2 separate regions of the Homo sapiens genome follow, and region 2 is linked to region 1. The links come from fine-mapping of genetic effects on gene expression. A gene starts in region 1. The other region holds a variant in brackets. All regions are shown on one strand. Distances are between the middles of the regions.

Region 1 (16,033 bases):
CCAAGGTAAAACTACGTGAAGATCACCAGCAGGAAATACTTTTGAATACATTTTTTTTGCTACAGCACTTTCAGCCAAAAGCTTAGGAGTATGCTTAATAACAAACACAAAAGATTTTCAAGGGTTTGTTTCAATAACAAGGCATTTATTTGTAAGTTCTTATAGTAGCCAAAAAAAAAAAAAAAAAAGTATTATCAGTACCTGTCAACCCAGGTTTCTTTTACTGTATCATGAATTATCAGTAAAGTATGGGTTCCTTAGGCCTGTGGGTCAGAGCAAGTCCTGCTTTTTTATATAACAATTTCAAGAAGTTAAGAGAATAAAAATGTAGTTCTAATTTTAGGAATAGGGCACTCTTTATGAGTGACTGATTATACTGTTTTATTCCCCATAACATTTTAATGAGATAGAATATTATCCACATTTTATAGAAGACTGGAATGACTAAGGGAGGAGGTTAGAGAGGTAAAGCCACACATGGCTAATACAGAGGTGTCGGGATTTGACCTATATCTATAACTGCAGTGCTTCCTTCTACAGAACAGGGCATTCTGTTACCCATGTCTTTTACATGGTTATGCACTCACACAACTTTGATTAACAGCACTTTTAATTCATATATTTGATTAGTATATTTGAGCTTTTCTTAGCTATTTCTTTAGATACAGTAAATTATTTGTTGCTTTTTAATCAAAAGTACTAAGGCTAGGAAACCAAGATTCTAAATTCTGTATTTAGGACAGGGGAGGGAAAGGTAGCAGCTCTAGAGATGGCATGTGTCTAAGTGATTCTTTGCCAGTTTCTGATGGGATTATTTGACCAATGGTATTCATTTAAATTGGTCCCATCTGTGAAGTGAGAAAACAGAGGTCAGGCATAGGAAGAGTTAGATTTTCTTTCTGGATTAAGTCTTTTCAGTGAGTTCCACTTAACTGATGGGACATTGCTGGGTTGAAATACTTGTAACAGAAATTAATAGTAGTTTTAAAAAACCTATGGCTAGTTACTCTTTGGTCTATTACAAACATCTCCCTTATAAATAAGCATGCATAATTGAGGAATAACTGAATGGTTCCATATAGCAATTTAACATGGATTAAAAGAAATAACACTTTTGAATATAGAAGACAATGTCTGAAGCCTTGGTATAGATCCAAATACTCTCAGTGGTATCTAAGAACAAAATTTTTATTACTAGAAATTCTCTTCACAAATACCTAGTGGGGTAGTAAATTTGCAAAAGTAGTCCTCTTATAAGATAATGTAGATTATAAGATGCTTTAGTAAACTCTGGAATGTCATTCCAATGACCCAAGACCACACATCTCTATCCACTAAACGTATCTGTTAACCTAGCTCAACTACTGATTATGCTGAAATAAAGTTGTTTTTGTTACATCACCATCAGTTCCAGTGGCTGAAACCATAAACTGAAGATGCATATTACTAACAATGCCAGTTAGTTTTAGATATTTTGAATCCATGTTTTGGGTTGCTAGACAGCCACCTTGGAAGTCTGATACTGAGGTGCTATTCACAGGAAGAGCCCCAAATTCACCACCCTGTGTGCCATGATACAGTATAAAATTTACTGTAGGTTGTTCATCTCTCTAAAGTAAACGTCACATTAACATCTCTCAGCATATAAAACCAGGAAGTAAGAGTTCCTCTGTGACACAGAGACTGCCTAAAACATGATGGAAACAGATTTAAAGTGAATGCAGCAGAAGCAGTTCTTTAACCCAAAAGGAAAGGGATAAGGGTTATAAGATAATAGATAATATAGTCTACTTCGAAACATATTTGGCATACACATTTACCAAGATTAATCTTACCTGAAATACAAACATATGCCTTCCTGCGGGAACAGGACCCACTAAAACAGAGTCTAAAACTTGATCGTATTCTTCACTTTCTGCAGAGCCCACATAGATAATTTTCCATTCCAAGTCTAGGGTTAAAAAACCAAAGCATTATTTCATATTCAGTAATTACATTACCAGATGACATCAAAGACCCTTTTAATGTCCACTTAGCCACTTACTGGCTTTAAAATTGGCTTCTCATAGCAATCCAGAAAGGCAGTGAAATGCTCCTTATAAAGTTCCTACCAGAGTTCACACTTTGATCAGAGTTTCTCAAAATACTCTTTTGTGAAACACTAGTTCCTGGACAGTGCCTCACAAACAAGATAACATAGCCAAACACTTGGGAAATGCTGTAAACCTTGTCTTGAGGATTCATAAAGCATGCTGGCACAGTAAGTTTTCTGAGATATCCTTCAGTAAAGAACACCAGTAACATTAATCCAGCACTTCCCAAATTTATTTGGCTATGGAATCCCCCTTTTTTTGTATATCATCTTTTAAGGCCCTTCTCAACACACTTTGGAAGGGCAGCCCTATACTACGCTGCAGAGATCCAAATAATCACAGAGCTCCAAAGTAGAAAAATTATTAGTAAAACCTCCCTCATGGCTCAGAAGTAAGTGGCTTCAGCTCATCAACTGTCAACGAACAATGGTAGGGTTTTTCCCTTACGGCACCCCCCTGTGTCATACATTCTTTAAATTGGGCAGAGGAAACCAAGATCTTTACACCACGTGATACAATAGAGTATACACAGTGGAGATAGGCAGGAGGAAAAGACATTCAGGTGCAATTCAAGGCGTTATATGTAATTCAATATAGCGGATTTTACTGAGCATGTTTTACAATGTGTTCTGTGAAGTGAACCCAGAGATGAGTAGAACTCTTTGGAGGAGTCTCCTGTTTAGCTGAGGAAGAAGATAACTTTGTAATACAAACCATCTCTGAGAGACCTCTTCATCTTCTTTGGGTATTTTGCACTGTGTGGCCTGCCTCTTGCATTCAACACACTGTTACACAAGCACTCCCAAAGGGTGAGTTTCTGGGTCACTCATGACAATCTAGTTAGTGCCACCATGTGTGGCCATTTTTGTGTAACTGTAGATATTTTTGTTCCCTAAATTGATAATAGAAATAGTAACGTACTGCTTATTTATATTGTATTGTAAACTACAATCAACTGAAAGCTCCTTTTTTATTTTCTCTTATTAAGTCAGCAATCATTTTCTGAGGACCTATTATGTCATGGCTCTGTCCTAGAACTAAACCATTTCTATTTCCAGCTTCCAGCACACTTCCAGATGCAGGGTGCTGCATCTGACATCTCCTGAGATCATCTGTTGATGGAGATAGAGAGGAAGTAGGCAATATAAGTATCTCGCCAGAGGGAACAGCAAATACAAAGGCCCAGGGGTAGGGCACACTTGGCAAGAAAAAGCAAGGAGGCTAGGGCTGGAGCAGAATGAAAGGAAGGAGGAAAGCACCAAACCCTATGATTGAGGATGAGGGGAACAGCCAGATCATGCGGTTTTGAAGGCCATCATAAGGACTCTGGCTTTCACACTGCGTGGCATGGGAAGCCATCGAAGGGTTTTGAGCAGAGCAGTAACAGGAGCCAACTTTCATTTTAAAAGGAATGCTTTGATTGCTGTGTTCAATATAGAGTGTAAGAGGACAAGGGAAGAAACAATATTTCAATAATTGAGGCAAGAAATTATGGTGGCATGGACCTCGTGTGGCCATGGGGCTGTGCAACAGTTATATTCTGGATAAAATCCTGAAGATGAAAGCAGCAGGAGCCACTTTTGCAGGGAGGTGATGTGGGGTAGGGGAGCAATCAGGAGTTCATTTTAGACATATTTGAGATGTCTGCTTCTAAGCAGAGATACTGAATAGGCAGGATAAAAATTTGGAACCTGTCAATGATATGTAAAGCCATAAAAATACATGGGCTTGCTCTAGGGAGTGAGATTTGAGCCCTCCAAAGATAAGAGGACAAATTAAGTTACAAAACAAGTGGCAAATGAGGTAGGTGACCCAAAAGCCAAGTGAAGAAACTGTTTTAAGAAAGTGATGTGAAAGGTACTAAACTAGCCAAGTGAGGATAAGACTAAGAATTATCACATAGAGTGGCTGGGCGCAGTGGCTCACGCCTGTAATCCCAGCATTGTGGGAGGCTAAGGTGGCTGGATGGCTTGAGGTCAGGAGTTCGAGACCAGCCTGGCAAACATGGTGAAACCCCATCTCTACTAAAAGTACAAAAATTAGGGGTGGCACATGCCTGTGGTCCCAGCTACTCGGGAGGCTGAGGCACAAGAATCGCCTGAACCCTGGAGGCGGAGGTTGCAGTGAGCCGAGATCGCGCCACTGCACTCCAGCCTGGGCAATGGAACGAGATTGTCTCCAAAAAAAAAAAAAAAAAATTATTACATAAAGGTTTTCATGAATTTTAATTTCATATATAATTGTATCACTACATATAATGCCCTTGATCCTAAGTGGTATAAATTCGCATTTGTGGACTGGCATAGGAACATAGCCATAATTTATAAACCTATTTTAGAAAATACCTACTATATACTGGGCATTAGTTCTACTTCATACCTATTGTTTAAACCTCAACAGCTTCATCATGTAGATCAAATTATCCCCATTATGCAAATAACTTGAGACTCTGAGAGGTTAAGTAATCTACACAAATTCATAATTTGTACATCAAAGAATCAGAATCCAAGCTATGCCTCTGTAACTACAAACCCCGGGCTTCTTCTGAAAACCTAACTGGGAAGATAAATTCTTTCTAGCTCTGAAATTAGCAGTGGAATAAGGGAATTTATTTGCAGGGGAAGTGAGAGCAGAGGAGATGGAGAGAGAATCTAGCCTTAACAAGAACAGGCTGCAACTCAGGGAACACTTGTACATTGATTTTTATGTTTATGGGATGCTTGCTACAGTTGCTGAGTTTTACATGCTCAATACCCTTTTATACATTGGCATCAGTTTTTTTGTTGTTTTTTTTTTTAACCCAGCTTTCATTTAATTCCTCTGCCCCCTGTATTTGAGGGAGGAAGGGTAAGGTCAGATGTTTTACATAAGTTCTCAGGTGAAGAAATTTGTTCATTTATTTTAAAGTTAACTTTTATTTAATCACAGTAATCATGATTAAATGATTTACCCAGCCTGAAAGTATTTACATTTGTGGTGAAAGAGTGAGTGAATGAGGGAAGTCATCAAGAGAATTTTTAGCTAATTACACTACTTGGGAAGACCTGTGGTCTAGTGGAAAGTATGTAGGCTTTGGAATTAGAACAAGCTGAAGTTGGAAAGTATGAAGCACCATGCTCAATTCTGGTATATTATAAGTATTCAATTGACAGTAGCTGTAATTAAGATATATATATATATAAATTTAAGAATGGCAGGATGGTCAATCAAAACTTGTACAGTCTTGGTGACCATCAAGCACATCCAGCCAGGGTCTCAGGCTGTCTTAACCCTTGATATAAGCCCTATATTAGAAAGAACCAAATTATCTTAAGACCAAATATTCCTCAAGGCTTTTTCTGAAGCAAAGCTACAGGGCAGCTCTTAAAGGAAAGTGAACGTTTGGGGCTACTGATGAAAGTATGAAAAACGGTGGCCAAACTCTGCTTTGAGACTTGAGGCAAAATAACTTATTAAGAAAATTCTTTTCAAAATATTCTATAGTTTGGGCTGGGTGCAGTGGGCTCACTATAATCACAACACTATGGGAGGCAGGGGTGGGAGGACTGCTTGAGCCCAGGGGTTCGAGACCAGCTTGGGCAACATGGCAAAACTCCGTCTCTACAAAAAATTAAAAAATTAGCCCAATGTGGTGGCACATCGACTATGGTCCCAGCTATTCAGGAGGCTAAGGTGGGAGGATTGCTTAAGCCCAGGTTGAGGCTGCAGGGAGCAGCTGTGTTTGCACCACTGTACTCCATCCAGCCTGAGTGCCAGAGCAACACTGTCTCATTTAAAAAAAAAAAAATTCTATAGTTTAATTTTAAGAACAGAATTTTTAAAAGAACTGTAATATAAAAGTATGGAACCTATTAGAAGCCTTTGCTAAGTAAAAATTTCCTTAATCCACATAGCCTCTAGGTGGAGTATACAGGCATGGCACCTTTTTGAAAGATTCCTTTGCAGCTTCAGTATGACTCAGCTTAAAATATTTTTTAAAATACTAAATAAATGCTCAGTAATGGTGCCTAGGAAGTGAAATATACCATTGGAAATAAGTATGTTTTTGACACCAGTACTGTAAATCCCTGATGTGATTCAGCTGGGTTCTGAATGGATCCCAGTTAAAAATGGAACGTTTTGGCTTTATGAATGGCTGGTTTCATCTATGCAATGTAAAAGCCCTGTAACGACATCCTGAGTCATCTATCTTCTTTGTTCAGAGCTGACTCCTAAAATGGAAGGCAACACTTGAGAAATACCTGTAATTTGAAGAACTTCTGGTGGTATATCTGAAAAACAGTGTGGTATAAGTTGGAATGGACCGATCAATGGTTTTTCTTTTGTCTATTTTTATATGCAGTTGGCAATAAAAAAAAAATTACTGTTGGGTGTGAAAAATGGGCCTGGTAGCTGCAATGCTTATATTAATAGTAGTATCATAGGAGAGTAATCAAATGACTTCAGAGTAATAAGAAAAATACCCCTTAGTGTTATCAATGGCCTATTTGAAATTATTTTAATAAATGAATCATCTTTCAAAATTTGCCCTATATATGTATGTGCATTTATGCTCTATATAGGTTTAAAAAAAAAAAAAAAACGGGGGCACATGTTAAAGTAATAATTGTGATTACCGAAAGGAGATAGGGCAAGGCACTGAGTACAGAGAACTGTTAACTTTATATATGCCTGTACAACTTTCTAAAAGTTTATTACAATGAATATATATTGTTTTATAATTAAAATTAACCTTACATATGATATATACATTTTAGAGATTAAAAACTAGTTTTTAAAATGAAAAGTTTTACATGCCACGATTACCTAAATCATCTTCAATGCATTTTTTACATATACTTCTAGTTCAAAGTATGTCCCTCATCGATGAAGTTAAACTATTTCCCCTTCAAAACTGGCAAATGAAGCACTGAATTACTTTAGTAAAAGATAATTAAAGCAAAGATAATTGTCGTTTTAGCTTTCTAAATATTTATTACTAAAGATATTAAAAATACGTATTTTTAAGACCTTAAAATATATGTAGAAAAAATACCAAGAATTCTTGGACTGACATGAGGAGTTGACCTTAATTTCCTAGCCTACGTTTGTGTTTTATGTTTAGGGTGTGTTCTGTATTTGGATGTGGAGTTATTTTAGATTTCAACACGGTCTTGAAGAAAGTCTTCCTTCAGACTATTTATAAGGCAGAGATTAAGTCCTGGAAATTATTTAAGTATCTTATTTCTGCTTTTAGGTTAAATGTAACTTCCTACCTCAGCTCTATTTCTCTTCCTGAAATTAGCTTTTCGTCATTAGGGGAAAGGAGTCCACGTTGGTTGGGGAGCCTGCGCGCCAGCATCCCGGCGCATCCCGGGCGCCGGCCGAGGAGGACCGGCCGAACAGGACCCACGGCCCCCGGGGAGCGCCGGCGCCCAGCCCGCGGCGCGGAGGGGCCGAGCCTGCGCCCGCCTCCCCCGCTGGTTGGTCGAGGAAGCCAGAAATCAGCGCGAGGACAGCCTCGCTCTCCTCCCCGAAGCGGCCAGGCATGGCCAGCCCGGAGAGTGCGGCGACTCCACCGTGAGCTCTCGAGAGTGCCTGCCTGCCTTTCGCCGGGGGCAGGCGGGCGGCGGGGCAAGAGGAGGCGCCGTGCGCCGGGGTCGCTGGCCCAATTCTCGACTCGGGGTAAGATGGCTCCGCTCCGAACTCGCCGGCGCGACCACACGCACAGCCTCTCCCTTCCCAGCCTCCGTGCTCGGGCCCGGAGGGTCGCGGAGGCTGTTGGCGGCGCGGAGCCAGCCCGGCGCGACCTCAGGCGGCGCAGCGGGAGCGAGTGCGGGTCTCCGAGCTGCCCGCCCGCAGACAAAGCTGACAACATGGCTACCTCCGCTCCTCCGCTCAAACAAGTTCCTCGCAAGTTGAGCCCGGCAGGCGCCTGGGCTGCGGCGGAAAGCCGCGCGCGCCTCGGCGGCCGTCGTCCATCAACTTCAAGTTTCCCTCCGCAGAGCAGCCCGCGGCCGCCAGGCGCCGAACACAGCCGCCCAGCGCGAGGCCCGGCCCGGGAAACTTTCAACGTCTGCAGCCCGCAACTGACAGCCCGGGCGCACGGGCGCCGCACTCACCTTCAGACAGGTCCTCGATGCACTCGAAGGTGATCTCGAACTGGAACGGGTTGTAGAAAGGAGAAGGGTTATCCAGCACCACTACATTGTTCACCTGAACCTTTGCCATATTTTGAAAAAAACACAAACAATGGGAACTGGGGCTGGTTGCGGCACAATAAAGTCCAGCGCGCGGCCGCTCGGGAGAGCGCAGACCCCCGCTCCAGCGCCGGCCAGACGTCGTGCAGCGGCGACTTGAGAAACTTTTTTCCTCTTTTTATTTACACGGGAGCACTCCACAGTGTTTTGCAGCTTTCCTATTTCACTAAACTACAGCCCATTCTGCTCTGATAAGTAGCAGCGTTGCCCTCGATTGGCTGCACCCGAGTTCTGACCCTCCTCCTCCAGCGAGGGCCTCGGCAGCCAGCAAGATGGGCTCCCGCTCCCGGAATGGACTCGGAAACTTTAACTGCGGCTCCACCTGCTGGTGTGGATTAGGACAAAGGCGGAGAACAAAGTGAGTGGAATAAGGGCTGGGAGGCCCGCGCGGAGGCCGCCGGCGGCGGCGCGGAGAGGGGCGGAGGGGGCGTGGCCGCGGCGGGGAGGCGTGGCTGCGGCGGGAGGGCGCGATCCGGCCGACGCCCGCCCCTCCAGTTGGCTTCGTGTGGGTGTTTTGGCGTTTTTTTGTTTTTTTTTTTGTTTTTTTGGTTTTTTGATTTAACGCTCTTTTTACATCAGTGCAACAGCTTTGCCGGCCTTGCTGAATTTAGCAGATGAGAGTCGGTGTTTACACTGGGTTAGGTTCAGCTTTCTGCGTATCGGGTAGTATTTGGAGTAGAGAGAAAGATTGGCTGCAGGGGAAATAAATTGCATGTTATAGACCGATGTCAGCTCGAAAGGAGCAAAGCCATTTTGGAAATCTAGCTCTTGGCCAGTATCTACGTTTAGGCACGACAGCGCCGTTAAGCAACACAAAATGAAGGGCGAGGAATGATTTTCTACACACTGTGCTTGGAAAATTTAAATAGGTAACCTTTGGGCTTGCACCTGGGCGTCTTCTTCGGAGTCCAGATCTGGGAAGTCCTAGAATAAAAAAAAATCACAAGAGGTGTGATCAGTTATACTTCAGGTTACTGCCATTTGGAGAGCATAGCAGGAACATAAAAGGAGAAAATGGAAGTGTTAGGAGACCAACAGGGCAACAAACGTAATAGAGATGGGAAAAAGAACACAAAGACATAGCAAGACATTTGATCTTCAAAAAAATTTCTGACCTAAACCGTTAGTAAAGCAAATTCTGAGGAGCCCTTGCTTGCCTGTAACCAGTTGAGGTCTGAACTGAGGAAATGTTGATTCGTTTATGCTGCTTGGCTACCATTGCGGGGAAAGAGAAAGCTTTAACATATTTGTGAGCCTAAACCGTTTCTATTTAGTAAGTGGTATAAAGGTTTGTTTTATTATCTGCTAGCCATAAACCATCATTTTTTTCCTTAAATGTTGTGAATGAAACCACCAAACTTGGCCAAATTCAGAGAGAAAATTAATTCTTAAGTATGTGTTCTGGAAGAGTTTTCTCTTAGTATAGTGCCCAGAATTTTGATTTGTCATTCTTTGGTCATTGTTCATACTTAAGTAGGTGGCTTTTGATGAAACGTTTTCATCTGATGGTCTTTTGAAAGTTAATGTGAGACAGCTAATGTCAACCCCTCGTACATTTAGGAAAACCGGTTAGAGTGGGGAAGAGTTCCCTTTTTTTGTCAGTGGATTGAACAGTTAGATATAGGACCTACCAAAAAACACTTCTTCAAGCCAGTTGTTTGTGACATTAGAGTATTAAGAGTCAAACCATGGTGATAGACACAGATTTTTGTGGCTGATAAACAACATACTCTTCATTCTTATTAGTGCTGGTCCTAACACTAGCAGATAAAGTGGAAATTGCTGTATGCTGTAAGACACTCTGTATATGTAAGATAAAATGACCATTTGAAGATTAAAACTCCTGTGAGACTGGTGTATGCAGTTGTCTGATTATTACAGGTACTCTTAAGAGGAGAGTCTAGTCAGTCTCATGAAAACGACATTTTATGCTTGTTAAAATCACGTGCATTTTGCAGTCTGACCGTAAGTGTTACAATGAGACTAGTTGTAAAACTCACTTTTGGTGGATGTGCAGCATGAAGGACTGAGAAGATCTACCTGAATGCCACTAATTTGGCTTATTTTCTTTAAAATTTTTTGTTTAACACATCATATGCAACAGTATTTAAGAAGAAAAAACTCCCCAACATTTCACTGGAAGCTGCAAGAATTAGCTCCAGGCTTCTCCTGTCTTAACTCTTGTATTATTGCTTGTCAGAAATACTAAAGGGTCGTTGAGCACTTTGTTCAATAGTTTCCTCACCATTGATACTACCTTACTCCAGGAGAGACCGAAAGGATTCCTCAGATATGTCCTGGCATATTTCTAATTTAACTGGTATGCTGTAGGAAAAAAAGAATTGTGAAAGCCTCTCTCTGGTTTCAGAGGCAATCAGTAGGACTTGTTGCTGAACAACTTTGGTGACTCCCAAACATCTAATTGTACAACAGATGGGTCACTGTGAATGTCTTTATTAAGTACCCAAGGGGGTCCCACATAATGTTTGGAGGGCTGCATGGAATGTAATCCCCCAATCACTTCTCACTATGGGTTACTTGGGGGAAGGATGGCTGAGAGAGATTTTATCGGCTCTAAGATGAACAGAACAAAGCCTAAACTAGTGCTTAGGGCAGAAATACATGAAACTAGTTAGTTGTTGTTTTAGACTGAATTATGTCTCCCCCAAATTCGTATGTTGAAGCACTAATCCCTAGTACCTCAGAATGTGACTGTATTTGGAGATTAAGTTAAATGAGGTGATTGGGGTGGGCCCTAATCTAATCTAGCTGGCGTCCTCACAAGGGGAAATTTAGATTTACAGAGAAGCACAAGGGTCACACGCACACAGAGGAAACACAGCAAAAAGGTGGCCATTTGCAAGCCAAGCAAAGAGGCTTTAGAATAAACCAAACCTGCCAACACCTTGATCTTGGATTTCTAGCTTCCAGAACTGTGAGAAAGTAAATTTCTATTGTTTAAGCCACCCAGTGAGTGATATTTTGTTATGGCAGCTCTAACAACCTAATATAGCTATAAGATATTTTTCCCCTCAGAATTAAGCTTATTTGAGCATCTAATCTTACTGAATCCAAATATTGGTCAGTTCCCAAGCACTTCCTGTGGGTGAAATGATGTGGTCCTTTAGCCATGCCAGTAAGGGTGTGGCGTATGTGGAGTGGTGTGCTGTTGCCATTCTTCAGAGGAAGTATATACCACTGGGCATATAGCTTGAATTCTGAAGACACAAGATGCAGCTTACTTGCATGGATTCAAGACTCCTCTACAGAGAAGTGAAACTTGAAGTCAAATTGAGGTCATACACAAAACAAGATGAAAGAGCGAATTCAAATATACTAAAATTGAATTAAATCAAAATGTGCCAAATTAAAATACATTAGAACTAGGAATTAAATTGAGTGTCAGCCCGTGTCTACTGCAAAAGTTATCATAGGAATGGAAGTACTAACCTCTAGCTTTTGTTCAAATCTAGATTTCCACCTCGGGTAATCACTGTGTTGAATTGTCTTCTCATTTGTATTATTACCAACTTAAAAAAATTCCTCATGTAAGGCTTGTTTTAATATGGTCTTTAGTTAGTTTAAGAGGCTCCTTTTTATTTATTAGAAATAGGATGTCAAAATTTAATGATAGTTTTAAATAAAATTTTCTGTATAAATATAGACTAGAGATTTGATGGAGTTCATAGACATTTCTAAATGGAGTAAATTGTACAATAATGATTTCAATAATAATTCATTACATACATACAGAGAGCATTTGTTATGTGAAATTTTTATGCTAGGCTCTGTGAGAAATAGTCAAAGATAAGACATACAAAGACCTTATGGTTCAGTAGGAAAGGTAACTAATCAAATAAGTATGATGCGAAATAGAAAGTGTTAGATGCACCTGTAACCAGTTATGTTAAAATAGGCAAAAGAAAAAATGTTTTCTTGACAATTTGTAAAAAACTTTAAAATACCTGTTTTTGAGCCTCACAAACAGGAATGGCAGGAGGGTAAGATATCATCCCATATAACAAATGAGGATGCTGCTGCTCAGAAACCCATTCCTCTGATGGCTGTCCTAGTACCTTTGTACTCTCTACCATGTCAAGTAAATTTTAAAGTGGGCTTTGTATGTAGAAAAAATAGATTGGTATCATTTTCTGGAAGAACCCACAGGCTGGCGGACACTCCAGTAATGACTTGATTAATGAACTCTTGAGGAACAAAGCTCCATTAATGAGGTTGGTCCAGGTGTATACTGGGAGAGAGAAGGAGACCCAGCCAAGGCAAAGCTGGGGGAGGCTCCCCACGGGGTACTACAGATGTCAAGCCTCCTGTTGAAAAAGGCATCCCTTGGAAGGTGTGGGGGATGGAGCTACACATCCTGGAATGCATCCTTATACTTTTTATAAGGTTTCCATGTCTGTTACATAGCGTACCCTCTCCCCTTCTCTGCTCCACGTCATTAATAAAAGTTTCACTGTTTTGTGTTCTTTTCTACCCATCATTGTGTTAGAAGTTTGTTGAAGGTATAAGCTATATCTGATCCCTTATCCATAGCTGGACTATACTGTAAAACACCTTTTGCATAGCCATAGGTTACATCAGTCAGCTTTCTGAAGCACTGTAATTACATTTATTGACAGTTTCTTGGTGTGTATATCATTATGTTGTTTTTGACCATTTTGAAGGGAAATGCCTAATAATTATTTTCTGTTTCTTATACCTAGTTTTTTGTCTGTGTCTTCTTAGTCCTCTTATCAATCAAGGTCTTTCTAAACTCGTTTCCTCTTGAACTCAAGTCTCTACTTGCAGTCCATCTTCCTTCATGTTTTATAATATATTCCATCCTTTTCTCTCTAACCCTCTACTGCTCTCATTCATCAGAGGTTCACTTTTTAATACCAGGAAAAAAAACAGTAATCGGTAGAGAGGACTCAAATCTTTAAAACATCTCTAGGCTAGACCACTGCTCGTACAAAGCCATTACTAAGCATAGCAGCTTTTCTAGTTGGTTACTATAGAGACAAATGACATTAGATGGAGTGACGCTTGGCAGAAGCTAGGCATGTAGGCTTTGTGAGATTGGAGGCCTCATATGCATGGTCATTTAGAAAGAGTCAAAAACCAGAAAGGATAGGGAGGGGAAATGCTTCACAAATGAGCTAATAGGTAATTAATTGGTAGAAATTTGGTTGGTAGAATTTGTGCCTGATAAGGCTTTGAATCCGGCATGCAAAGAATCCACCTCTAAGTACCCCCTGGTATGATTACACAGTAATATTTTTCAGGTAACAGCTTTGTTGAGATAGAATTCACATAACATGTAATTCACTCATTTGAAGCATCTGAGTCAATAGTTTTTAGAATATTCAGAGGTGTGCAACCATCATCACAATCAATTTTAGAGTATTTTCATGATCTCAAAAAGAAGCTTTGTAGCCTTTAGCACATCCCCCTCCCCAGCATATCCCCCAAGCAGTAGGCAAGCACTGAATTACTTTTTGTCTCTATAGTTTTGCCTATTCTAGACATTTCATATAAACGGAATCTTATAATATGTAGTCTTTTATGACCAGCATCTTTGAAGCATAATGTTTTTGATGCTTCTTTCATGTTGTGTTATATATTGATGCTTTATTCCTTTTTATTACCCAATAATTTTCCATTGTATAGGTATACCACGTTTTATTTATCTGTCAGTTGATGGACATCTAGGTGGTTTCTACTTTTTGGCTATTACACAAAATGCTGCTATTAACATATGTGTACAAATTTTTGCATGGGATGGGACAAATGTTTTCATTTTTCTAGGTTTATGCTTAGGAGTGGAATTGCTGGGTAAGATATTGTAACTCCTTTTTAGGAGCTACCAGACTGGTTTTCTGTTTGTTTGTCTGTTTGTTTTGAGACGAGTCTCACTCTGTCACCCAGGCTGGAGTGCAGTGGCGTGATCTCGGCTCACTGCAAGCTCTGCCTCCCAGGTTCACACCATTCTCCTGCCTTAGCCTCCCGAGTAGCTGGGACTACAGGCGCCCGCCACCACACCCGGCTAATTTTTTTGTATTTTTAGTAGAGACGGGGTTTTACGGTGTTAGCCAGGATGGTCTCGATCTACTGACCTTGTGATCCGCCCACCTCTGCCTCCCAAAGTGCTGGGATTACAGGCATGAGCCACCATGCCCGGCCACCAGACTGTTTTTTAAAGCAGGTGTACCATTTTACATTCCCACCAGCATTCTAATTTCTCCACATTCCCACCAACACTTGCTGTTCTGTCTTTTTGATTATAGCCATGGTGGTGTGTGACATAGTATCTCATTGTGGTTTTGGTCTATATTTCCCTGATGGCTAAAGATGTTAAGCATCTTTCATATGCTTATTGGCCCTATGTATATCTTCTGTGGAGAACTGTCCATTCAGATCCTTAACCACTCCCTTCACCCCTTTTTTAAAAAATACAGACGGAGTCTCACTCTGTTGCCCTGGCTGGACTTGAACTCCTGGGCTCAAGTGATCTTCCCACCTCAACCTCCTGAGTAGATGGAACTACAGGAGCATGCCACCATGCCAGCTCTTTGCCTATTTTGAAAATTGGGTCATCTGTCTTTTTATCATTGAGTTGTAAGAGTTCCTTATGTGTTCTACATACAGGTCTTTTGTCAAACACATGATTTGCAAGAAGTTTCTCTAGTTGTTTGGATTATCTTTTAATTTTCTTGGTGGTGTCCTTTGCAGTGTAAAAGCTTTTAATTTTGATGATGCCCATTTAATCTATTTTCGTTATGTTGGATTGTGCTTTTGATGTCATTTCTCAAAAACCATTGCCTAATCCAGCGTCATGAGGATTTACACCTGAGTTTTCTTCTAAGAGTTTTATTCTTTTAGCACCTTACATTTGGGTCTTTGATCAAGTTTGAATTAATTTTTGTATATGGTGTGAAGGGGTCCAAATTCATACTTTTGCATGTGCTTGTCCAGTTTCCCAGCAGCATCTGTTGAAAAGACTATTTTCCTAATGAATTGGCTTGGAACCTTTCTCAGAATGAATTGACCTTAAATGTATGGGTCTATTTCTGGACAATCAATTCTGTTCTGTTGATCTGTGTCCTTATACTACTGCTACATTGTCTTGATGACCTTAGGTTTGTGTAGTATGTTTTGAAAGCAGGAAGTGTGAGTCCTCCAACCTTGTTCTTTTTTTTCAATATTGGCTATTTTGCATCCCTTGAATTTTCATATGAATTTTAGGATCACTCTATCAATTCTGCAAAGAAGCCACCTGGGATTGTGATAGGGATTGCATTGAATCTATACATCCCTTTGGGGAGTACTGCCATCTTCATGATGCTGCCTTCCAATCAGTAAACATGAGTTCGCCTTTAATTTCTTTGAGTAATGTTTTGTAGTTTTCCTTCTTTCTTTTTTTGAGATAGGATCTTGCTCTGTTTTTTAGGCTGGAGCACAGTGGCACAATGATAGCTCACTGCAGCCTTGAACTTCTGGGCTCAGGCGATCCCCCAACGTCAGCCTCCAGAGTAGCTAGGACTACAGGTGTGTGTGTGTGTGCCACCACATCCGGCTAATTTTTTGAAATTTTTCATAGAGACTAGGGTCTCACTGTGTCGCCCAAGCTGGTCTCAAACTCCTGGCCTCAAGCCACCCTCCCACTTCAGCCTCTTGAAGTGCTGAGATTACAGCGTGAGCCAC
Region 2 (14,625 bases), 230 kb before region 1:
GTAACTCCAACTTGTGTCTGTTGGCCAGTGTGCCAGAATGTATTTGATACTATGGAAACATCTGTGTCTAATGGCAATTGAATCTAGGGCATTTATTTCTATTCCCTGAGTCTGGATAAGATCTACAGGAATCTGTCAGTCTTTCATTAAATGCTTATTTCAGAAACAATATACTGTTTTCTGATTTGGGGGCTCCCTAAAATTTCATTTCTGGAGCCGGAAGTCTTCCTCAAATGGTGGTTTTCAGATTTTCCTTGGGCTCTAAGTAAATTATGTGGATTCTGCTTAACAGTTGAAGTTGTTCAACTGGAAAAATATATGACTCATATTCCAAATATTGACATGGAAAAATATATGACTCATACTCCAAATATTGACAATCTCCAAGTATTTCACCTCTATCTTTAAAAAAAAATGTTTAAAACCTTGCGAGCCTCTGTTTGTACATCTTGCTGTGGATGCTAGGAACTTGCAGTGTGTCCCTGCCCCTGGTGGGCTTAAAGTTTATATAATTAAGTAGATTTTTGCCAAAGGCAGATATTCCACCAACCTTTACAATAGAGATTTCTGGGCCACATCCCCAAAGCTTCTGATTTTGTGGATTGGGGGCAAGGGCTGGAAATCTACATATTTCTAAACTCCCCTTCTGTTCAATGTTGCTGTGAACCTAAAATTGCTCTAAAAAATAGTCTTTTATGCAAATAAGTTAAAAAGAAAACAACAATAACAACCCCCCACACACACACACAAAACACAAAAATGAAACCAAAAAACACCCCCCTATTCAGCTCTCTCAAAGTCAGCTCACTTTGAGAACCCCTAGAAATTTCTCTAATTACAGTATTAAGAATGTTAAAGGCTTGTTAGCTCCAATGCCTAATCCCTCTGGTTCCCCCTAGTGGACTGAAATAAAATGCGCTTTCTACAATTTAAGCAGTTAACGAGTGTGAAACCAGATTGAAACACATGTAAAGACTAATTATGAGACGCTTTCAGAAAAAGGCAACATGCATCTCAGTGAAATGCATCTGGGCCCTAAAAGATCAGGAAAGCCCCACCACATCTGCTTCATGGATGGTTTTGCTGTAAGGCGCCCAGGTTAGTTCTCAGTATGTCAGCCACAGGCAGAGCTTTCTCTATGCAATCCTCTGCAGATCACATTTAGGTGTCTCTGCCCAGCCACAGATCCTCAGGAGGTCCTGAGAACATGTGCTCAAAGTGGTTGGGTTACAGCTTGGTTTTCTTACATTTTAGGGGGACAGAAGTTGCAGGCAAAGACATAAATCAATACATGTAAGGTACACATTGGTTCGACCTGGAAAGGTGCGACATCTGGGAGAGAGGGGCTTCCAGGTTATAGGTAGATTCAAAGACTTCCTGATTGGCAATTGGTTGAAAGAGTTGAGTTTTGCCTGAAGAGTTTAAAGTCAGCACAAAGAAATGCTTGAGTTAAGGGAGATTGTGAAGCTAAGGTTCTTATAAATGAAGCCTCCAGGTAGCAGGCTTCAGAGAGAATAGACAGTGTTTTTTATTGGACCTTAAAAGGTGTCAGGCTCTCCGGAAAAAAAAAAACTAGTAAGGGAAGGGGATTCTCTACAGAATGCAAATTCCAGGGCCCCTCCCCCATCCACAGGAGACAGCTTTGCAGGACCATTTCAAAATATGTCAAAGAAATATATTTGGGGGTAAAATACCTTGATTTCCTTCCAGGCCTGCTATCTGCCATGCGATGCTATACCAGAGTCAGGTTAGAATTTGGTATTTTATTGTAACTGGGGGCCTCAGTTTTAAAAATATTTTTAATCACACATTTTCTTTTTCTTCCTTCCCTCCCCACTCACCCTTTTATTCCCTCCCTCTCTAGACACTCCTCTCCAGTAACTCATGTTTATCTAATTATGTTCTTGCTTAAGAAATTTCAGAAGATAATCTTGAAACAAACCAGGCACAGAGCCCCTGCTTAATCATCCTGCTTAGAAGGAGTCTCAAACAATTAGTCCACCACCATCTGGCCCAAGACAAAATAATGCCAAACATACTTCCAGATAGGCAATTACCCAAGATAACCATCAGAACAAACATACAGACCCTTCATCCTGCACTAGTCCCTCACATCTCCCATACCAAGTTTCCCTTTAAAAACCCTATGATAAAATTTTAAAATTTAAGATGGTCTTTGTGACTAGTCCACCATCTTCTTGGTTTTGCGGGCTTTCCAAAGAAGCCTGCTTTTCTTCCCACCAATTCTTGTCTCTCATGTCTGGTTTTCCAGGGGTTAGCAGCCAAACCTGGGTTTGCATACCTTACTGCTACAAAGAGTCTGTTTGTCAGTCTTAAGATCTCTGTTTTAATGTTAATGGTAGTCAGTTGTGCCTAAACTCCAAAGGGAGGAGGTTATAAGGAGGCATGTCTGGCTACTCTACCTCCACCTTCCAGTCATGGCCTGAACTAGTGTTTCAGGTTTCTTTGGGATCTCCTGGGCCAAGCAGGGGGTCCATTTAGTTGGTTGAGGGGCTTAGAATTTTATTTTTGATTTACAACTCTAACATTATCAGTGCTTAACACAGTGTTTGACACAAAGTAGACGGTCAATGAATGTTTGTTGAATGAATGAATGAATGAATGAATGCATGAATGATGGAATGACCTGAAGAACAATTCCACACTGCACATACTCATGCCTCCCTTCTCAACCTTTCTCTCCCCACTCCCAACTGTTATGACATCTTGGGAAGGAAGGAGAAATGCTTGCTTTGAAAAAGCTCCCCAGCTGACTTTAGGGTAGCTGCTTCCCTCCTGCTTTCCTACCTGGTAGGGAATTCCTGATCCATTCGGTTCTCTCAGCTCCAAACCCAGAGAAGTTAAATCATTTGACCGGGATCACATAATTAGATAGTGGCAGGGGCATGTTTCCCAAGTCTTGGGCAAAGTCTCTTTCTATGAGGTTTACCAGCATTGACAGTTACCCAGGATATGTCCTCTCACAATTTGCATGTGTTTAGATATTTTTTCTAAAGAGTAGAAAACAGTCCTAGCTACTCTTTTCCCCTGTCAGATCCTAGGCCCTGCCCTTCCACTGTGGTAGGTAGAATTCTAAGGTGTCCTCCAAGATACCTCACCACCACTAGTGTGCACACACCTTTTCCCAGTTTTTCAATCAAACACTAACCTAGGTGCTACTGTGAAGGGATTTGCAGGTGAAATTTGAGGCCCAAATCAGTTGACCTTAAGATAAGGGTGATAGGGACAGGAGGCAGAGAAATTCTAGGCATAAAAGGGTGGGGTTCCCGGCAAGGGCCCCACCCTCGAGCCTGGAACCACAGCCCAAAGTGAGAACATGCATTCCTGTTTTCCCACTTGAATGTTGCCTTTTTCCAAAACCACCCATGGCCTGTCCCACCCACCATCCTGCACTCATAAAAACCCCTGACCCAGCTGGCAGAGAAAAGGAAACAGCTGAACATTGAGAG[G/A]AGAAGAAACAGCTGGACATCGGGGAGAAGCAGCTTGACTTCAGAGGGATGGCTTGATGATGGGACTTCAGAGTCCGGCCAGAGACAGCCAGACTTCAGGGGAAGAATATTTTTCCACTCCATCCCTTTTCCAGCTCCCCTTCCTGCTGAGAGCCACTTCCATTGGCAATAAAATCCCCCACATTTACTATCCTTAAATTCATTTGTGAGACCTGATTTTTCCTGGATGCCAGACAAGAGCTCGGGGTACAGAAGGCTAACACACTGACCCTCTGCCCGCACAAAAAGGCAGAGGCTTCACTGAGCCTTTAAACACATAAGCTGTCCGTGGACAGCAAAACTAAAAGAGCACTGACTGTTAACACTCCTTCTGGGGCTTCAGGAGTCACAGGTACTCCCCCTCTAGATGTTGCCATGGGGCCTGCACAGAGTTTTGCTCTTGCCGGTGCCCGGAAGCACTCGCCCTGGCTCTTGCACCCACTCAGCTACACTCCCCGTCCCACTAGGGCTGGAGTGCAGTGGATCCAAGCAAGTGAAGCCAGCCAAAGCAGCTAGCTAGCTCCAGTGCCCACAGTCCAGTTCCCACCTGCTGCAAAGGGGTCAGGGAAAATTTCCTGTTTCAGGGAGAACATCTTTGGTGGGCCTGACCTAATCAGATGAGTCCTTAAAGTGACTGGGCTCTTCCTGGAAAGAGAAATTCGAAGCATGAGGGAGATTTCATGCAAAGGAGATTCTCCATTGCTGACTTTTTATGATGAAGGTGCCACATGGTAGGGAACAGTGGGCAGCCCACAGAAGCTGAGAGCAACTCTGTGAGCAAGAAGGTGGCAATCACAGTCCTACAACCACAGGGAACAAGATCCTGCCAACAACCTGAATAACTTTGGATGACCCCAAGCCTCAGATTAGAATCACAGCCCTCGCTGACACCTTAATTTTATTCCTGTGAGACCCTGAACAAGGAACCTAGCTGTGTCATGTCTGGACTTCTAACCTGTAGAACTGTGAGCTAATAAGCTGTTGTTTTAAGCCATTAAATTTATGGTAATTAGTTATGCAGTAATAGAAAATGAATAGACCCTCTACACTGAAACTACAACAGATCATATTCAGGGAAATTTTACAACTCTGAGTGGCTGGAGTGCTACCAGGAAGTCCTCCACTTGCTGGCTTGCTAGTTGCTTCCAACAACTTCTCTGGGCACATACGATGAGCAAGACTCTGGAAACTCCTCACAGAAAGTTGACCTATTGGTCCACTGTATAATTAGATCAACTCTTCTGGGAATGTAAAAGTAGTCTGCCAGTTGTGGCTGCAAAGTTTAGATATGTATATGCCAGAAAACTCATGCTATCCAACAATGGTATGCAAATTGGTGTGTCCGTCTAGGTTTATAACCAACTCTTCAATGAATGTAAAGAAATGAGCTTTAAAATAAGGAAATAACACCTAGCACATTGGGAAGCCAAGGCGGCTAGATCACGAGGTCAGGAGTTCGAGACCAGCCTGGACAACACAGTGAAACCTCATCTCTACTAAAAATACAAAAATTAGCCAGGCATAGTCCCGACCTATAGTCCCAGCTACTCGGGAGGCTGAGGCAGGAGAATCACTTAAACCTGGGAGGCGGAGGTTGCAGTGAGCCAAGCCACGCCATTGCACTCCAGCCTGGGTGACAGAGCAAGACTCCATCTCAAAAAGAAAAAAGAAGGAAATAATATTTTGTTATTGGACTTGCTGAAAGAGATCCAGACAGTAATTATTAACCATACATATGTTGATTGATTAATAAAGCTGTTTGAAGTCATAGACCAGACTTACATACAAATTTTCTGAAAGCTTATTCTAAAAAACTATTAATAGATACAACTGCCTGGATATGAATTAAAATGCCTGAATATCAAGCTACAACAATGTTTATAAAGAATGATTTGTAAATAACACCTTTCAAGGCACTTTCAAAGCGTTAGTAAAAATTAGCTTAATTACAATACATAATACAATATAATAACAGGAGTTCTAGGGAACTGTGGATCCCTGGGATTTTTATGTAAAATCAAGTAAGCACATATGCATTTTCCTGTGGCAAAATGTTTATCTCTCTCATCAGCTACATAACCTCATGAAAGCTAAAAACAAATGTTGTATTATAAAGTTTCTGAGGTTGTATCTACTTGGAATATACAGATTAATAATTGTTACCAAAAGTACTTTAAAGATATAAAAAAAAAAAATTAGGGCCATAGTTTATTTGATCTTCTAATTGGGTGTTTGTTCATGACTTAATGTCTTTTCACGTTTTATTAGATTTGCCAGATGGAAAAAAAGACCTCTACTACCAGGTTGTAACTTCCTTATTATACCCATTATCATTTAGATGAACCCTTTGTAAGCAATGATTTCAGCATGACTCATTTTAACAGCATATAATGGTCTTTTTAATAGAGTATGAGAAGGCTTTTACACCCCCAGGTAAAATTTTATAAATAAATGTAGATTTTTAAAATTATAATTACAATTACTGGCAGAAAGTTAAAGCCAATGGGATAGTTATAATCATTATTGCCTTGATTTAAACATTTAAGAGATGCCTTATAAGTTTCAACATAACTCTACAATTTACATAAAACATTGCCAGTCAATAAAAGTTGTTGAACTTACAAGAAGAATGTTGATACTGTAAAGCTATTTACATAGTTGACATATATAAGAAGTTTTCAAGGCTAAGAACTAGAGTAAGAGCAATGCTGCCAGAATTTAAGTTGTTTGAGGCCAGATAATTAAACCAAATGAAACAAAAGATAAAAATCCTTTGAACTAAAATATTTCTTTAGCTGTCATCTTTAACTGCATAAATACTGATTGGCTAAGACTATGAATAACTGAGAATATTTTAAATTTAAAAAAAGAATAAAATGAGAAATTTCAAAGTGGATATTATAACCAGCAACATAGAGTTCCATAAATAGCAATAGTCACTATGTTTTGGGAGTGTGCAAAGTTGTATCTTGGAGTGTGCTTTGTAAATGTTTGTGTCTGAAGATGTATCTAAACTTGCATTTTACAACTGTAATGTAATGGCACAATCAGCAAATGGCTAACTTCAAATTTAAAATAGAGTAGAGAGGAAACAAATGTTTCTGAATATATTTCTCTACAGTATATAACTGTCCATATTTATTTCTTAAGATTCTGTGACCCAAACACCTATACATACTGCAAATAGCATAAACAGCAATCAACTTGTCAACATAAACAATGGTAAACTAAAAATAAAACTCCAAGCCTCCAACGGACTGAATGGATCATCTCTTTGCCAAGGGGACCCCTGAGTAACGTTGAAAACAGAGTTCTCGGCCCTGATGGGAGCCGGGGTCAGACTCCCTTCCTTGCCAACCATGATTGGGCTTTCTTCCCTAAGGGCCTAACAGAACTCAACACTTTCAAAAGTTAAAGCCAATGGAATAGTTATAATCATTATTGGCTTGATTTAAACATTTAAATCATGTTTAAAATCATGTTACCCCTGACGTGAACCAACCACCCAACACTGCCCCTACTGTTTTTGTTTTTGTTTGTTTGTTTGTTTTTTGGTATTTTTGAGATGGAGTCTCACTCTGTCGCCCAAGGTAGAGTGCAGTGGCATGATCTCGGCTCACTGCAACCTCCACCTCCCAGTTTCAAGTGATTCTCCTGCCTCAGGCTCCCTAGTAGATAGGATTACAGGCCTACACCACCAGGCCCGGCTAATTTTTATATTTTTAGTAGAGATGGGGTTTCACCATGTTGGCCAGGCTGGTCTCAAAATTTCTGACCTCAAGTGATCTGCCCACCTCCACTTCCCAAAGTGCTGGGATTACCGGTGTGAACCATCCCCCCGCCTGCCCCTACTGTTTTGCCTGAGACCACAGACCATGGAGTGGTTCTGGCCAGTCCATGGAGAATGCACAGTAAGGGTTTTCATGTCCTCTGCTTCACTTTGTGACATTAGAGGACTGAAAACTCCACCCTCAGATCACTGCCTTTTTTTTTTTTTTTTTTTTTTTTTTTTTTTTTTTTTTTTTTCAGACAGGGTCTTCCTCCGTTGCTCAGGCTGGAGTACAGTGGCATGATCTCGGCTTACTGCAACCTCCACCTCCCAGGTTCAAGCAGTCCTCCCACCTCAGCCTCCCGAGTAGCTGGGACCCGAGTAGATGCATGCTACCATGCCCAGCTAATTTTTGTATTTTTTGTAGAGCCAGGGTTTTGCCATGTTGCCCAGGTCGGTGTTGAACTCCTGAACTCAAGCAATCCACCCCCTTCAGCCTTCCAAAGTGCTGGGATTACAGGCAGGAGCCACCGCGCCCCTCCCAATGCCATTTTTTGAACATGGAGAAGAAGCAGGAAGCTCAGTTGTGCATGTGCACGTTTCTCCTTTCATAAATATTCATGACTCCTTTTACAGCTTATTGAATATGTATGTTTGACCTCTCTACTTGGCATACATTCCTGTTCCTTTTGCCCTCCTCTGAAGTATCTGTTTCTGGCTTCTGGCCACAGACTATGCTTCCCAGACTGTCAGAAAGGCCACCTTGCTGGCTACAACCCTTTGTAAAAAATAAAGTCTCCTCTTCTACTCTTCTAAATTGATAAATTGTATTTTTTTTAAGTTAACACAGCAGAGGCATAAAAAAGGAGCTTGCTCTTGTTAGACCAACAATATCTGAATTCCTCTAGAAACCCTATTAATGCAAGACATTCCCTTCAGAGGCCTTTTTCCGCTTCTCCCTGACCACTAAGGCTGGAGGTCCAGAATGGAGAGGGCTGTCTCTGTAGTGCTTCTAGAAAGATCTATATCCCCACAGAGAAAGAGCAGTAGCACTCCAAAGAGATGGATTAATTAATTCACTCTGATAGAAAAGAGTTGCACTAAAAAGTTCCAAGCTGGTCATGGTGGCTCCTGCCTGTAATCCCAGCACTTTGGGAGGCCGAGGTGGGAGGACTGCTTGAGGCCAGGAGTTTGAGACCACCCTGGCCAACAACTGCATCTCTATAAAAATAAATAAGTAAAGAAACAAACAAGTAAATAAATAAAATAAAAAGTTACCAAGAGTCTACATAGAAAGGATAATAAATAGGGCCAAATTATGTTAAGCACTGTGTCACTTATCTTGGTAAAGCAGCGTTCAATACTGTTCTTTTTAACTGACAGTTCAGATCTTCATGCCTTTTTAAGAAATCACTTTGCCTTATTCTCAAACCACTTAGCCTCCTAAACTATTTAGCATGAAGCCGGATATAAGTGATATAGCTGATGGGTTAATTTACACTTAAATACCAAATAATCACTCAACTGACAGCAAATATCTTAGATGTCCTCATTAGAATGTCAGTGCTGCTAAAATATTTATAAATAAGAAAAGATGCCACTTCAAATTTGCTGACATCATTAAGTTTTGTTAATTTCTGGATTATGCAATTTCAGGGACTATTTAAAATTAACGGAAATGGCACTCAAACTAAAACTCTCATACTGCTTATGGATTTAATTTTCCTTAAAAAAGAATTTTAAAAGGCCAGGCACGGTGGCTCACGCCTATAATCCCAACAATTTGGGAGGCCCAGGTGGGCTGACTGCTTGAGCTCAAGAGTTTGAGACCAGCCTGGGCAACATGGCAAAACCCTATCTTTATTCTACAAAAAATACAAAAATTAGCCAGGTATGATGACATGCACCTGTAGGCCCAGCTACTTGGAAGGCTGAGGTGGGAGGATCTCTTGAGCCCAGGAGGTTGAGGCTAAAGTGAGCCATGATCTTGCCACTGCACTCCAGCCTGAGTGACAGAGTGAGACCCTGTCTCAAAACAAATGAAAAACTTTCCTATTAAAAATATAATACAGGGCTAGGTGTGGTGGCTCACACCTATAATCCCAGTACTTTGAGTGGCCAATGTGGGAGGATTACTGGAGGCCAGGAGTTCAACAGCAGTCTGGGCATCATATCAAGACTTCATCTCTACAAAAAAAAAAAGAAAGTTTTTCAGATGCAGTGGTACCTGCATACAGTCCTAGCTACACAGGAGTTTGAGGCAGGATGAGCATGCCACTGCACTCCAGCCTGGGCAACAGAACAAGACCCTGTCTCCTAAAAAAAAAAAAAAAGAAAGAAAGAAAGAAAGAAAGGAAGAAAGAAAGAAAGAAAGAGAAAAACCATCACTTTATTTTAGTCCATAAAATTGAGTGAAAAAAAAAAGTAATACATTTCTCCACTCAAATAGAAACAGCTCTGCCACTAGATCCTATTTCACACCCATTAGGATGGCTGTATTTAATAAGACAGACCATAGTAAGTGTTGATGAGGATATGGAGAAATTTGAACCCTCATACGTTGTTAGCGGGATTGTAAAATAGTACAGCCACTTTAGAAAACAGTTGGGAGTTCCTTAAAATGTGAAACATAGAGTTACCATATGACACAGCAACTCCACCTCTGTGTATATACTCAAGAGAACCGAAAACATTTGTCCACACATTTGAACACTAATACTGATGGCAGCATAATAGCCCCAAAGTAGAAAAAACTCAAAGGTCCATCAACTGAAGGACAGTGTCTATACAATATGTAGTGTGTCTATACAATGGAGTATTATCTGGCCATAAAGAGGAATGAATATAGATACGTACTAAAACATGGATAAACCTTGAAAACATTATGTTTCCTGAAAGATACAGAATACCATATATTGTATGATGTCACTTCTATCAAATGTCCACCACAGGCAAATCCGTAGAGAAAGTAGATTAGTGGTTGCCAGGGGCTGGGAAGAACAAGCGGATTATGAGTAACAGCAAATGGGTGCAGGGTTTCTTTTTGCAGTGATGCAACCTTCTAAAATTAGATGCTGGTGATGCTTGCACAATTCTGTGAATATGCTAAAAACAACTGACTGTGAACTGTATACTTTAGAAGAGTGAATTTTAGGGTACGTGAATTATGTCTCAATAAGACTATTATTATTATCATTTGGGGCAGGGTCTTGCTGTGTCACCCATGCTGTGCTGCAGCGGCACAATCATGGCTCACTGCAGCCTCGACCTCCTGGGCTCAAGCAATCCTCTCAACTCAGCCTCCTGGGACTACAGGCATAAACCACCATGCCCTACGAATTTTTATTTTTTATTTTTTTATTTTTTTGTATTTTGTAGAGACAGAATCTCACCATCTTGCTCAGGCCAGTCTTGAACTCCTGGACTCAAGTAATCCTCCTGCCTCTGTCTCCCAAAGTGCTGGGTTTACAGGCATGAGCCACGACACCTAGCCTCAATATAGCTATTACTTTTTTTAAAAAGGCAAAAACTGATGACATGTTGGAGAAGTTTTTTCCAGTCTCTTTTTTTCTTAATTTTATAGTTGTGGTTATTTTGTGTTCATATACTAACAATTTTTAAAGTATGCCATCTTATTACAAACTCATTATCAGGGGAACCTGCCCCCGATTTCACATGGGTTCTTTTCTATTTTCCCTAAGCACTGGCCGGTTTGAGAAATAAAGGGACAGAGTACAAAAGAGAGAAATTTTAAAGCTGGGTGTCCGGGGGAGACTTCACATGTCGGTAGTTTCTGTGATGCCCCCTGAGCTGTAAAACCAGCAAGTTTTTATTAGTGATTTTCAAAAGAGGAGGGAGCGTACGAATAGGGTGTGGGTCACAGAGATCACGTGCTTCACAAGGTAATACACTATCACAAGGCAAATGGAGGCAGGGCGAGATCGCAGGACCACAGGACCGGGGCGAAATTAAAATTGCTAATGAAGTTTTGGCACGCATTGTCATTGATAACATCTTATCGGGAGACAGGGTTTGACAGCAGACAACCAGTCTGACCAAAATTTATTAGGCGGGAATTTCCTCATCCTAATAAGCCTGGGGGCGCTATGGGAGACTGGGGCTTATTTCATCCCTACAGTTTCGACCATAGAAGACAGCCGCACCCAAGGGGGCCGTTTCAGAGGCCTACCCTTAGGGATGCATTCTCTTTCTCAGGGATGTTCCTTGCTGAGAAAAAGAATTCAGCGATATTTCTCCCATTTGCTTTTGAAAGAAGAGAAATATGGCTCTGTTCTGCCCAGCTCACTGGCGGTCAGTTTAAGGTTACCTCTCTTGTTCCCTGAACACTGCTGTTATCTTGTTTTTTTTTCAAGGTGCCCAGATTTCATATTGTTCAGACACATATGCTCTACAAACAATTTGTGCTGTTAACGCAATCATCACAGGGTCCTGAGATGACATACATCCTCCTCAGCTTACGAAAATGATGGGATTAGGAGATTAAAGTAAAGATAGGCATAGGAAATCACAAGGGTATTGATTGGGGAAGTGATAAGTGTCCATGAAATCTTCACAATTTATGTTCAGAGATTGCAGTAAAGACAGGCGTAAGAAATTATAAAAATATTAATTTGGGGATCTAATAAATGTCAATGAAATCTTCACAATTCATGTTCTTCCACCATGGCTTCAGCCAGTCCCTCTGTTTGGGGTCCCTGACTTCCCGCAACAACTCATGAGAAACATAATAGCTTTATAAACTCTGTTGAGATCATTTCCCACAATAATAAAGGTAACTATTATTGAGTGTTTAATATGAGCTAAGTATTATTCTAAGCCCTTTATATATATTGTCTTATTTAATACTGACAACAACTTTAGGAGATCAGTGATTTTTATGCTCACATTTTACATAGGAAGAAATGAATGTTAAATTAATTTTATAGCTAGTGAATGGTGGAGCCAGTGTACTGTTTTACATTCACTCCAGTTTTTCATTATTATAAAAAATAAGAATTATCCTTGATTGTGGAAGACCAAACTTCTGCATCTATGGAAAGGTCCTGGCTTAATTAATAACTGCAGGTCAGAGCTTCCCATGCCCCAAAGGCCATATACAGCAATCCAGAAAGCAAAGTTTCTGCCTTAAAATCTGAGTGATCTTTGGTGTCACTTCATCTCTTCTTGACCCTCTGGGTGATCCAGAATTTAGACCCTGCCTCCAGCTCTCTGGTCCCTGACTGCTTCTCTCCTGTAACTGAGTCCCTGACTGGTCCTGCTTCTGGGATACCCCCACCCCTGCCTGTTTCTCTCAACCCTTGGCTGGCTAAACTTGCACTAAAAGGCAGACTCCACACACCTAGCTAAACTTTCAGGTCCTACAAATCCTCAACCAATTAAATTAATCACTAAAAAGGAGGGTTCAAGTCCTCCATTTCTAACCATGTGAACTAGAGAAGCAACCTCTTTGAGTCTGTTTTGTTATCTGTAAAAAATGATAATCCTACTGTATACTTCACAGGGTTGTTTTGAGGTTCACCTAAGATAAAGTACTTCATAAACCGTGAAGGTACGTAAGAAGCAGGTCTTACCTCTGAGTCGCAGGCATGTTCAAAGCAATGGGGCCTCTGACAGCAGCAACAGAACTGATATAGCCTCTCAAGGTGACCACAGTGGAAGAGGCCGCCTGGGTTAGGGTCCGATTATACATTGCTGTACTCAAATGTATTGTGTGGCAGTATGGCCTACTGACAACTTTAAGTACGAAAAGGACTAGCCAGGAAGCCCTGCCAGGGCATTGCTAATTGAACATTCTCTACATGGATCTCACTATTTCTTCTTCCCTCTTCCCTGTTTCCTAGCCTAGTTAAGGGCACCACTATGTACATGGTCACCAAAATCAGAAATCTGTTGATCATTCCTGATTCCCAGTAGTCCAAGTTAAAATCCCAAGAGTTTGTTTCTCACTCTCTCTCACCCTTACACACAAAATGATCCACAGACTTGTCTCCCAAATCTATGCCCACTCCCAATCCCCTAGCCTTGGTTAATGTCCTCCTAGCCTCCAAACTCGATGATTGCAATCGTGTCCCCTGCTGGTCGCACCTGGTAGTTCTACTTGGTCACTCACCAATTCTCCTGAGACCTGAATAATATTTCTAAAATGCAGATACTATCCTGTCTGGGAGGCTTTCCTGTTTTCCAAAGGATAAAGTCAAAACATTTAGAATGCCATACAGAGCTCATCTCACATACACACACTTCCTCCCCAGGGTCCTCTTCTGGCCTCTGCTTCCTCTCCAGATGCCCCTTACTCTTTACAAAGGGACTGTGGATTGTTTTCAGAATACACTATGCACTTTCATATATCTGTGATTTTCCAAATACTGTTCCCTAAGCCTGAAAATTCCTCCTGTCCTCCTTAATCCTTCTCTGCTTTGAGAGAGTCTTCTTCCCTTTGAGATCCAGTCAATGCCAGTTTTATGAAGTCTTCCACAGGCAGCTGGACACTCATTTCTCTGGACTTGCACAGCACTGTGGACATTTATCGCCTTGTAATGTTTTTATTGATTCACCTGCTTTTCTCCTCCACTAGACTGGGATTTGTAATAAAGAGCCTGAGTCTATTTTTTATGTCTGACTACTGAAAGTTTTCTTTTTTAAAAACAGGTTTCAACTTATTGTAGATTAAGGGTACACATGCAGATTTGTTATATGGGTAAACTGTGTGACACTGAGGCTTGAGGTCCCAACGATCCTGTCGTTCAGGTCATAGGCATAGTACCCAACATGGGGTCCTTTAGCCCATGCCCCCCTCCCTCCCTCATCTAGTGATCCCCAGTGGCTATTGTTCCCATCTTTATGATCATGTGTACTTAGTGTTTAGCTCCCACTTATAAATGAGGACATGCGGTATCTGGTTTTTTGCCTTTGTGTTAGATCACTTAGGATAATGGACTACTGGAAGTTTTCAAGCCCACCAGTCCCTTTTCCCCTTCTGCCCCCACCTCTGAGCAAGCCATTACAAAAAGCCATGCTCTCTCTCCTTTGGAGCTGATAGGAAATTCAAACCCTCAACAGGGAAACCCTCACTGTGGCCCCATCTCCTAACCACCATAAAGCCCCAAGACAGTCTCTAGTCCCTGCTCTCTCTCTCTCTCGTTGTGTGTGTGTATGTGTGTGTGTGTGTGTGTGTGTGTGTGTGTGTGTGTTTGAGACGGAGTCTTTCTCTGTCACCCAGGCTGGAGTGCAGTGGCGCCATCTCAGCTCACTGCAACCTCCACCTCCTGGGTTCAAGTGATTCTCCTGCCTCAGCCTCCCGAGTAGCTGGGACTACAAGCGTGTGCC

The links. PIP is the estimated chance that this variant, and not a neighbour inherited with it, causes the effect.
Region 2: its variant is fine-mapped to the expression of ASF1A in whole blood (INTERVAL, PIP 0.92).

Annotation. Positions count from the first base shown.
Region 1 is chr6:118,886,684-118,902,716 of GRCh38, reverse strand. ASF1A (anti-silencing function 1A histone chaperone) reads right to left here and starts at 8,565. Exons shown (of 4, transcript NM_014034.3): 1 at 8,195-8,565; 2 at 1,836-1,951. The coding sequence starts at 8,303. All of the region lies in intron 8 of MCM9 (minichromosome maintenance 9 homologous recombination repair factor), which reads left to right. RefSeq lists silencers at 7,371-7,900, 8,691-8,830 and an enhancer at 8,281-8,370.
Region 2 is chr6:119,115,835-119,130,459 of GRCh38, reverse strand. It overlaps a transcript of FAM184A not described here. Among named protein-coding and RNA genes, the nearest start is that of FAM184A, 44 kb to the right of the region's middle. The variant G/A (reference allele first, on the strand shown) is at 3,471.